2 separate regions of the Homo sapiens genome follow, and region 1 is linked to region 2. A link means that fine-mapping ties the variant in region 2 to the expression of a gene that starts in the linked region. Tissue or cell type: spinal cord. Region 2 holds a variant in brackets; the other region holds the start of a gene. All regions are shown on one strand. Distances are between the middles of the regions.

Region 1 (4,395 bases), 62 kb before region 2:
CAACTTGGAATTATATGGTCAAACTGAGAATACTCATACTCCATGACAACAATTTATCTTCTGTTCATCACAGACTATATGTAAAATTAAAATACAAACACAAAGTGGAAAGGATATTTGCAACATATAGAGTAGACATATAATTATTATCCAGAGTATATAAAGAACTGAGAGAGAGACCAACAGAAAAGGGGGCAAGATAACTACTTGGCAGTTCAATAAGAGATAATGGAAAGGCTAACAAAACCAAAGGTACTCAACCTCAACAGTACCCAGAGATTCAAGATAAAACCACAATGAAATACCTAAAATACACACATCCAAATATACAAAAGTTAAAAATCCAAACACAAATGTTGCTGATGATGTGGAAAAATAAGAACTCTTATACATAAGCACCAGAAACATAAATAGGTACACTACTTTGGAAAATGGTGTGGTCTTACTTTTTAAAGACCCACATGTGCAAAACCCTAATACCCAGCTAACCCACTCCTACGCTAGTACATGTGCATTAATAGACACAGACTTGTACTACAATGTTCACAACATTGTTAATAATAGCTAAAAATGAAAACAGTGTAAGTGATCATTGATAGTAGGAAGGATAAATCAATCTATATTGGAATACTGTCCAGCAATGGAAAAAACTTCAGCTACACAGCATCACCGGTGGCATAATATTAAGTGGGAGAAGCAAATCACAGAAGAATACATACAGTATTAATACCATTTATATACTATCAATACCGGAAAACATTAAACAATATCTTGTTTAGAAATGCATACATGAATGGCAAAAGGAAGAGAATTATTGTACAAAAGTCAGGGTAGTGGTTACTCCAGGGCGAGAAAGGCAATGTAATCGTTGGGGGCATTTTTCAGGTGCTGGTAATGTTTTATTTCTTAACCGGGTGCTAGTTGTACAGGTACTGTTCACATTATTATTAAGATAAACGTGTTTTATACACTTCTGCATGTATAATGTATTTTGCAATACAAATGATTTTTAACATGATTGGATTGGGCAATCTCTTAGGTTCTTTTTATCTTTGATGGTCTATTGTCAGGCCCTTCACAGCTGGACTTATTGTTGGCACCTCATTGACAGTTCCACTTAAGCAATATGCATTAAGACGCATACATGGGTGAATTAGACAGGAAAATTTGAAGGGAAAAGGGAACGCGCTAACAAAGGGAATCACAGAATAGGAGACTAGGAGTATGGACCATCTGATGCAAGCCCCTCTCCTCAGGGAGGCAACTGGGGTTTAACTTGAGAGCTCCTGGGTTCCAGTCCTGGTTCCGACTTTGATTTGGGCAAGTCTCTTCCCTAATTCCCAGTATCCTTATGCTGGCTTTGTAAACCGTGCCGTGAAATTTAAATAGGAGGACTAACAATAATTATTATTCTTTTACAATTGGGAAAACTGAGGCCACAGTGGGTCGCCACTAGCCCAAGGTGCCATCACCACGTTGTAACTCAGGGGTTCCCTCCGACGGCCTTACAGGAACTCCAACTCCCTGAACAGAGCACCGTCCCATTATACAAACAGCAGCTCCCTTTCGTCCGGCTTTGGGCGCAGTTTGACGTCACAGAAGAGCTGCCTTGCCTCACCCCGCCCCTTCGGAAGCCCCGCCCCCTGCCCGACTCCGCCTCGCTCGGCGTTCGTCAAGCTCCGCCTCCAGCGCTCGTCCCAGCGCGGGTAGCCCTGGAGTGCCCCGCGCGGCCTCTCTTCCGGCCCCGCCCCTCCTGGCTGCCATGACAACGAGTCTGCGCCCCGCGCTCAGCTGCTTCTCCGGCGGAACCCAGGCTGGACCGCGGGCCCCGGCCTGGGGGCCACTGCTGCCACCGCCGCCGCCACCTCGTCTCCTCCCCGTCCCCGCCCAGCCCCAGGTCTCCCCGCCTCACTCGGGCCCGTGGCCGGGGTCACTCCCCGCCGCCCCTCCCCGCACGGATGCCGAAGGTGAAGGCGCTGCAGTGCGCCCTGGCGCTGGAGATCAGCTCAGTGAGTACCGGTAGCGCCTCCCACCCCCGGGCATTGGCTCAGGGACTCCCTCAGTCACCTCCGAGAGCCCGGAACCACCCCCAAACCTCCTTCACCCTCCGAATCATCCCTAGGGAGCGTCGACCTCACGCCCCTTCGGTCCTGCCCCATCTTGTTCTCAGAAGCGCTCTCCCACTCCGGCCACGCAGAGGCCTGACCCCTGCTCCGCTATGCTGGCTTCAACCCGACTTCCAACTTGCGCGCTTTCAGATCGTTCCCAAATCACTTCAGAGTTCTTTCCTCGCTCCTAACTTTCCAGTGAGAGAGAGTGTATGTGCGCGGCGCGGGGGCTTTTCATTCCTCTTTCGGGCTCCAGTTCTCTTAGAGAATTATTGCCCCCGCCTTTCCCAAGTCTGGGGGTGGGCGTCGCATTTCCTCCCGAATCCCTGCAGGCACACCATTTCAGACCAGTTTCAAACCCGCATTAATGAAGGGGCCTTTCTTTATTCTGTCTTCGAAGGAGAATCTTCACATCCAACAACTGAAATGTGTCATTGCGCAAAGTACCTTGCCTTCCCTCCCAGGGCCTTACAGGAAAAACCCAACTCCTCAGAAATCACTTCAGGCCCCTCCCGTCCCCAGACCCTTCCGACTTTGTGCCAGCCATTGCAAGAAAGGCCCAGTCATTTTTATGAGGGAAACACCTCCTTCTCCAACCTTGCAACCCCACCCCTTCACTCTCCAGACTTGCTCAAGAGGATGCTTTCCTCCATCCTCCTGTGGAAGTCCAGCTGGGGCAGAGAACCCCACTCATCCAGTGAAGGGGCTGGACCTCTCCATGCTAGGAGAAAACTCTATTCCCCTTGTTGATCTCAGAAGACTTCCAAGGGTTTTGAACTTCTTCCCCTGCATTCTTTAGAGAACCCTCTCATTCCCCTGTTTAGAGGAATACTCCCGCTTGTCTGTTCTGGAGGAAATCTCCACAAGACCCTTTCCACACCCCGTTTTAGTCCTGCAGGCACAGACCTGTACGGAGTTTGGAACCAAAATTCACCATTCGGTCTCTTCGCTCCTTCTTACTCAGTAAGTCTTCTTATGTATATTGCCTTCTGTTTGATCTCCTAGGAAAACTTGGGGGTTGAGAGTGCTGAAATATTACCATTACTCTCCTGGGTGCTGCAGCCAGGAGCCCTCTGCATTTCCTTCCTGTACACCCTACTGGCCAGGCTCCACTTAACCCGTGCTTGCAGCTTCCCGCCTTTCCTGGCTGGCCTTCGTCACGTTAGAATGAGGTTGCTGCAGCACAGAACTTAAACCCCTAGGAAAATCACAGGACTGTTTTAGGTCTTTTGTTAGGTCTTAAAGAAGGCAAGTGTGCGTGGGGCAGAGTGTGAGGCAGTGGTGGTGAAGTAGAAATTTTCTTGGACTCTCCCTTTATCTTCAAGCCTGCAGAGATTTTTCTCGGAAACTCCATAGCCCTAGCTTTGCTTGTTTTCCTCCCAAAGCTGCCATTTTTGACAACTTTTTGTAAAGTAAAATTAGTTTAGCAAGAAGAATGCACGAAACTTTCTCGATCCCTTGGCCCAGGACACAAGTTAGTGAAACTCCTTCAGAGTTCAGCCTTAATAGATTTTGTTACTGGCTTCTTCCTCCTCCTGCCAACTAATGGTGTTTAGCAGTCTGGTGAGCGCAGCTGCCTGACTGGCTGGCTGCAGCTTCCCTAACGTTGCCAATACAAACTTTCTAAGAGGAAGTACTCTGTTGTAACTGATTACTGCTTGAAGGAGTCGGAGGAATAGCTACATTTCTCCTGAGTATTAGTTGTATTGCAGAAAAGTGAATGACTGTGTAATTCACTGTATAACGGAGCTTTGTTACTTATCAGAGCTAAAGAAAACTATGATGGTGGAAATAATATTTTTCCCCAACAAACATTTAAGTCACAGAATTTTATAGTTCCGAGACATCTTAGATGGAAATCATTGGATTCAATCCCTTTTTACAGCCAAGAAAATCGATGCTCAGCATGGCTATTATTTATCTAGGATTGCACAACTGTTTAGAAGCAGATGTGCAAAATGTTCCCGAATTTTTGAACAACAAAAGCCTTTTAAAATGGCTCTGATGCTCAGAAGGAGCAAACAAACAACGCCCCTGACCGCCCCCCCCACAAAAAAAACCCCACTAGCAGACGTAAAAGTTAAACATGTTTGATTGATTGATTAATTTGGCTTTGATTGAATAGAAAGGTTATATGACCCTAGATATTTTTAACATCTTCATTTTGATTTTAGTTCCTTTCTTGTCTATTTCCTTTTTACATTTACATGGTTCAAGTTCAAGACTATAACATGATATACTCAGAGAAGTGTTGCTTCCAGGCTCAAAACTATTTCCCACCTATACT
Region 2 (4,395 bases):
CTATATTAATCAAATTTTTATTTTATGTGAAAAATAGAGTGCTGGCTGGGCGCGGTGGCTCATGCTTGTAATCCCAGCACTTTGTGGGGCCAAGGTGGGCAGATCATGAGGTCAGGAGATTGAGACCATCCTGGCCACCATGTTGAAACCCCATCTCTACTAAAAATATATAGCTAGGTGTGGTGGCGCATGCCTGTAGTCCCAGCTACTCAGGAGGCTGCAGGAGGAGAATCACTTGAACCCAGGGTGGGGTGGAGGTTGCAGTGAGCTGAGATGGCACCATTGCACTCCAGCCTGGGCAAAAAGAGTGAAACTCCATCTCAAAAAAAAAAAAGTCTGTCTCAAAAACAAACAAACAAAAACCAATGTGGAGATGGTAACTGACATATAAATGTTGGACCAACTTCATATTTTTGTAGTATGTTTCTGAAAAAGGAAAATGTGTTAATATTTTTAACATATCTTTATTTTAATTTTCCTTTCATAGAAAATAAACATGACCCAAAACAGGTATTTCAATAAGGCATCAGGCAGTAGATATATCATACTTGATGATTTTGTTTCTAAATAGAATATTTTATTATAATTTGAATCATAGGGTATCTTTCTTGTAGTGGGTGAAACACTGTCTACGTATGACGAAAATACACGAGATTTCATGTTTCCGGGTCCAAACCAAATGTCTGGACACCATGATTCAAACCGCCAGGTTACCATGAGGAGGATTTCTGGCCTTCGAGTAAGTGCTTGCAATTTTCTGAATCAGTTTTTGATGGAAAATCATTGTCAGAAACCACCGCATAGTGCTCGCCATCTTAAATGTGAAGAACAAATTCAAAGTGTAATTTAGTTTACTTAATTGTTTTGTAGTTTAAATCTTAATTGTTTTAGATTTCAATATGTTACTTAAACATATAAAGATATTTATTTACAGCAATGTAAAAACAGACTAATACAGTAAATTGGTTACTTAAACATATTGAAATCTAAATGAAAATAATTTAATAAAAAGTGCCATTAAAAATTTTTTAAATTGTAATTGACATTCTTCAAATCTCTGTCATCCCCTTCTCTCCCCATCCCATCTCTGTCTCTCTGTCTCTTTCTTCTCTTTATTTTTCTCTCTAAGGGATGATAATAAACATTTGAAAAAATACTCTAACTCATTAGTATTCAGAGAAATCCAAGTTAAAACAACCATATGATTTCATTTATATAGCTATAAGATTGGGAAAATTTAATAAATCTGATAAAAGTGAAAAACTTAGAATCTTTCATATGCTGCTATACCATGTGATATGGTTAGGCTCTGTGTCCCCACCCAAATCTCATCTTGAATTGTAATCCCTGTAATCCTTGTGTGTCAGGGGTGGGACCTGGTGGGAGGTGATTGGATCATGAGGGTGGTTTCCCCCGTGCTGTTCTCATGATAGCAAGTGAGTTCTCACGAAATCTGATGGTTTTATAAGTGTTTGACATTTCCTGCTGCACACACATTTTCTCTCTCGCCTGCTGCCATGTAAGATGATTTGCCTCTTCCCCTTCCACTGTGATTGTAAGTTTCCTGAGGCCTTCCCAGCCATGTAAAACTGTGAGTCAGTTAAACCTCTTTCCTGATAAATTACCCAGTCTCAGATATTTCTTGCTAGCAATATGACAATGGATTAATACAGTACATTGGTACCGAGGTAGTGTGGCATTGCTATAAGATACCCGAGAATGTGGAAGTGAATTTGGAACTGGGTAATGGGCAGATGGAGGAACAGTTTGGAGGGCTCAGAAAGCAGGAAGATGTGGGAAAGTTTGGAACTTCCTAGAGACTTGTTGAATGGCTTTGACTATAATGCTGTTAGTGATATAGACAATGAAGTCCAGACGGAGGTTGTTTCAGATGAAGATGAGAAATTTGTTGGGAACTGGAATAAGGGTGACTCTTGCTATGCTTTAGCAAAGAGAGTGGCAGCATTTTGCCCCTGTGCTAGAGATCTGTGGAACTTTGAACTTGAGAGAGATGATTTAGGGTATCTGGTGGAAGAAATTTCTAAGCAGCAAAGCATTCAAGAGGTGACTTGGGTGCTGTTAAAGGCATTCAATTTCAAAAGGGAAATGGAACATAAAAGTTTGGAAAATTTGCAGCCTGACAATGGGATAGAAAAGAAAATTCAATTTTCTGAGTAGAAATTCAAGCCAGCTGTAGAAATTTGC[A/G]TAAGTAACAAGGAGCTGAATGTTAATCACCAAGACAGTGGGGCAGATGTCTCCAGGGCATGTCAGAGACCTTTGTAGCAGCCCTTCCCATCACAGGCCTTGAGGCCTAAGAGGAAAAGGTGGTTTTGTGGGCTAGGCCCAGGGTCCCTGTGCTGTGTGCAGCCTAGGGACTTGGTGCTGTGTCTCAGCCACTCCAGCCATGGCTGAAAGGGGCTAACATAGAGCTTGGGTCGTGGCTTCAGAGGGTGCAGGCCTCAAGCCTTGGCAGCTTCCATGTGGTGTTGAGCCTGCAAGTGCACAGAAATCAAGAATTGAGGTTTGGGAACTTCTGCCTAGATTTCAGAAGATGTGTGGAAACGCCTGGATGCCCAGGCAGAAGTTTGCTGCAGGGGCGAGGTGCTCATGGAGAACCTCTGCTAGGGCAGCCTAGAAGGGAAATGTGGGGTCAGAGCCTCCACACAGAGTCCCTACTGGGGCACTGCCTAGTGGAGCTGTGAGAAGAGGGCCACCATTCTCCAGATCCCAGAATGGTAGATCTACTGACAGCTTGCACCATGTGCCTGGAAAAAACTGCAGACACTCAGTGCCAACCAGTGAAGGCAGCCATTAGGGAGGCTATACCCTGCAAAGCCACAGGGGCGGAGCTGCCCAAGACCATGGGAACGTACCTCTTGTATCAGTGTGACCTGGATGTGAGATATGGAGTCAAAGGAGATCATTTTGGAGCTTTAAGATTTGATTGCCCTGCTGGATTTTGGACTTGCATGGGGCCTGTAGCCCCTTTGTTTTGGTCAATTTCTCCCATTTGGAGTTGTTGTATTTACTCAATGCCTATACCCCCGTTGTATCTAGGAAGTACTAACTTGTTTTTGATTTTACAGGCTCAAAAGTGGAAGGCACTTGCCTTGTCTTGATGAAACTTTGGACTGTGGACTTTTGAGTTAATGCTGAAATGAGTTAAGACTTTGGGGGACTGTTGGGAAGGCATGATTGGTTTTGAAATGTGAAGATAAGAGATTTGGGAGGGTCCAGGGACTGAATGATGTGGTGTGGTTCTGGGTCCCTACCCAGATCTCATCTTGCAGCTCCCATAATTCTCATGTGCTATGGGAGGGACCTGGTGGGAGATGATTGAATCATGGGGATGGGTCTTTCTCACGCTGTTCTCATGATAGTGAATGGGTCTCATGAGATCTGATGGTTTAAAAAATGGGAATTTCTTTGCACAAGCTCTCTCTTTGTCTGCCACCATCCATGTAAGATGTGACTTGCTCCTCCCTGCATTCCACCATGTGGAAGTGTAAGTCCAGTAAACCTCTTTCTTTTGTAAATTGCCCATTCTCAGGTATGTCTTTATCAGTACCATTAAAAATGAACTAATACAATATCTATCTTAAAGATGTATTCTCTCTGGTACACTAAGAGCCTTCTTAAGAATGTTTACCTGTTGGTTCATAATAGTGAAAAATTGAAATAATTGATATGTCTGTTAGTAGGAGTTTAGATAGATTAATTGTAAAATATGTATATAATGGAAATATATATTCATACACCTAAAATTAAAAGCTGCATCAAGTGACAGCTTACTCTCTATCCTTTACTATAACTTCCTTCAAGTTCTGTGGATGATTTGAAAATATTTTATTGCTGAAAGTAAGTCTTCCATGCAGAGAAACTGAGAGAAGCCCATGCCATTTCAAAAGAGGAAAAGCAAAAATTGTCCAGCTTGAAATTATTTGGATAGACCTTTAAAACTAATTGTATAAAATATTAGAGTAGTCCGAATAAGGAGAGTGTTGATATATGAACAAATATAGTTAACTAAGTAATTTCTCCTATAGATTTATGATATGCCCTATTCCAAGAAAAAGCAGCTTCATCTTTATGAAAGTATAAAAGTTGACTAAGTAGCAAGTCTATAAAACTATACTTTCTTTGGGGATATTTCAGTGTCCATTAGCATGCTTCTGTACTATGAAAGTCTTCAAAGAGTATTTCAAGATCTGTGTGGAAACATACAATGAACAAATAATCACATTTTAAAATTATGGTCTCTTTAATGTAATTTAAAATTCTGTATTATACCAATGTGGTAATATAAACTCAAGAGTATGGAACATTAAGAGGGATTTACTTTTCATCATTTAATTTGAGTTACTTTTGCATTTATTTGGAAGATGATGGATTATT

The links. PIP is the estimated chance that this variant, and not a neighbour inherited with it, causes the effect. A credible set is the group of variants that fine-mapping cannot tell apart.
Region 1: SPATA6 starts here. The variant in region 2 is the best candidate, but not a certain one, in a credible set for the expression of SPATA6 in spinal cord (GTEx, PIP 0.88).

The regions. Positions count from the first base shown.
Region 1 is chr1:48,469,572-48,473,966 of GRCh38, reverse strand. SPATA6 (spermatogenesis associated 6) reads left to right here and starts at 1,763. Exons shown (of 13, transcript NM_019073.4): 1 at 1,763-2,009. The coding sequence starts at 1,959. It overlaps LOC124904175 (a long non-coding RNA gene), which reads right to left and starts at 3,597. Exons shown (of 2, transcript XR_007066074.1): 1 at 3,015-3,597. RefSeq lists an enhancer at 1,432-1,481 and a silencer at 1,692-2,081.
Region 2 is chr1:48,407,808-48,412,202 of GRCh38, reverse strand. It overlaps SPATA6 (spermatogenesis associated 6), which reads left to right. Exons shown (of 13, transcript NM_019073.4): 5 at 615-739. Among named protein-coding and RNA genes, the nearest start is that of SPATA6, 62 kb to the left of the region's middle. The variant A/G (reference allele first, on the strand shown) is at 2,206.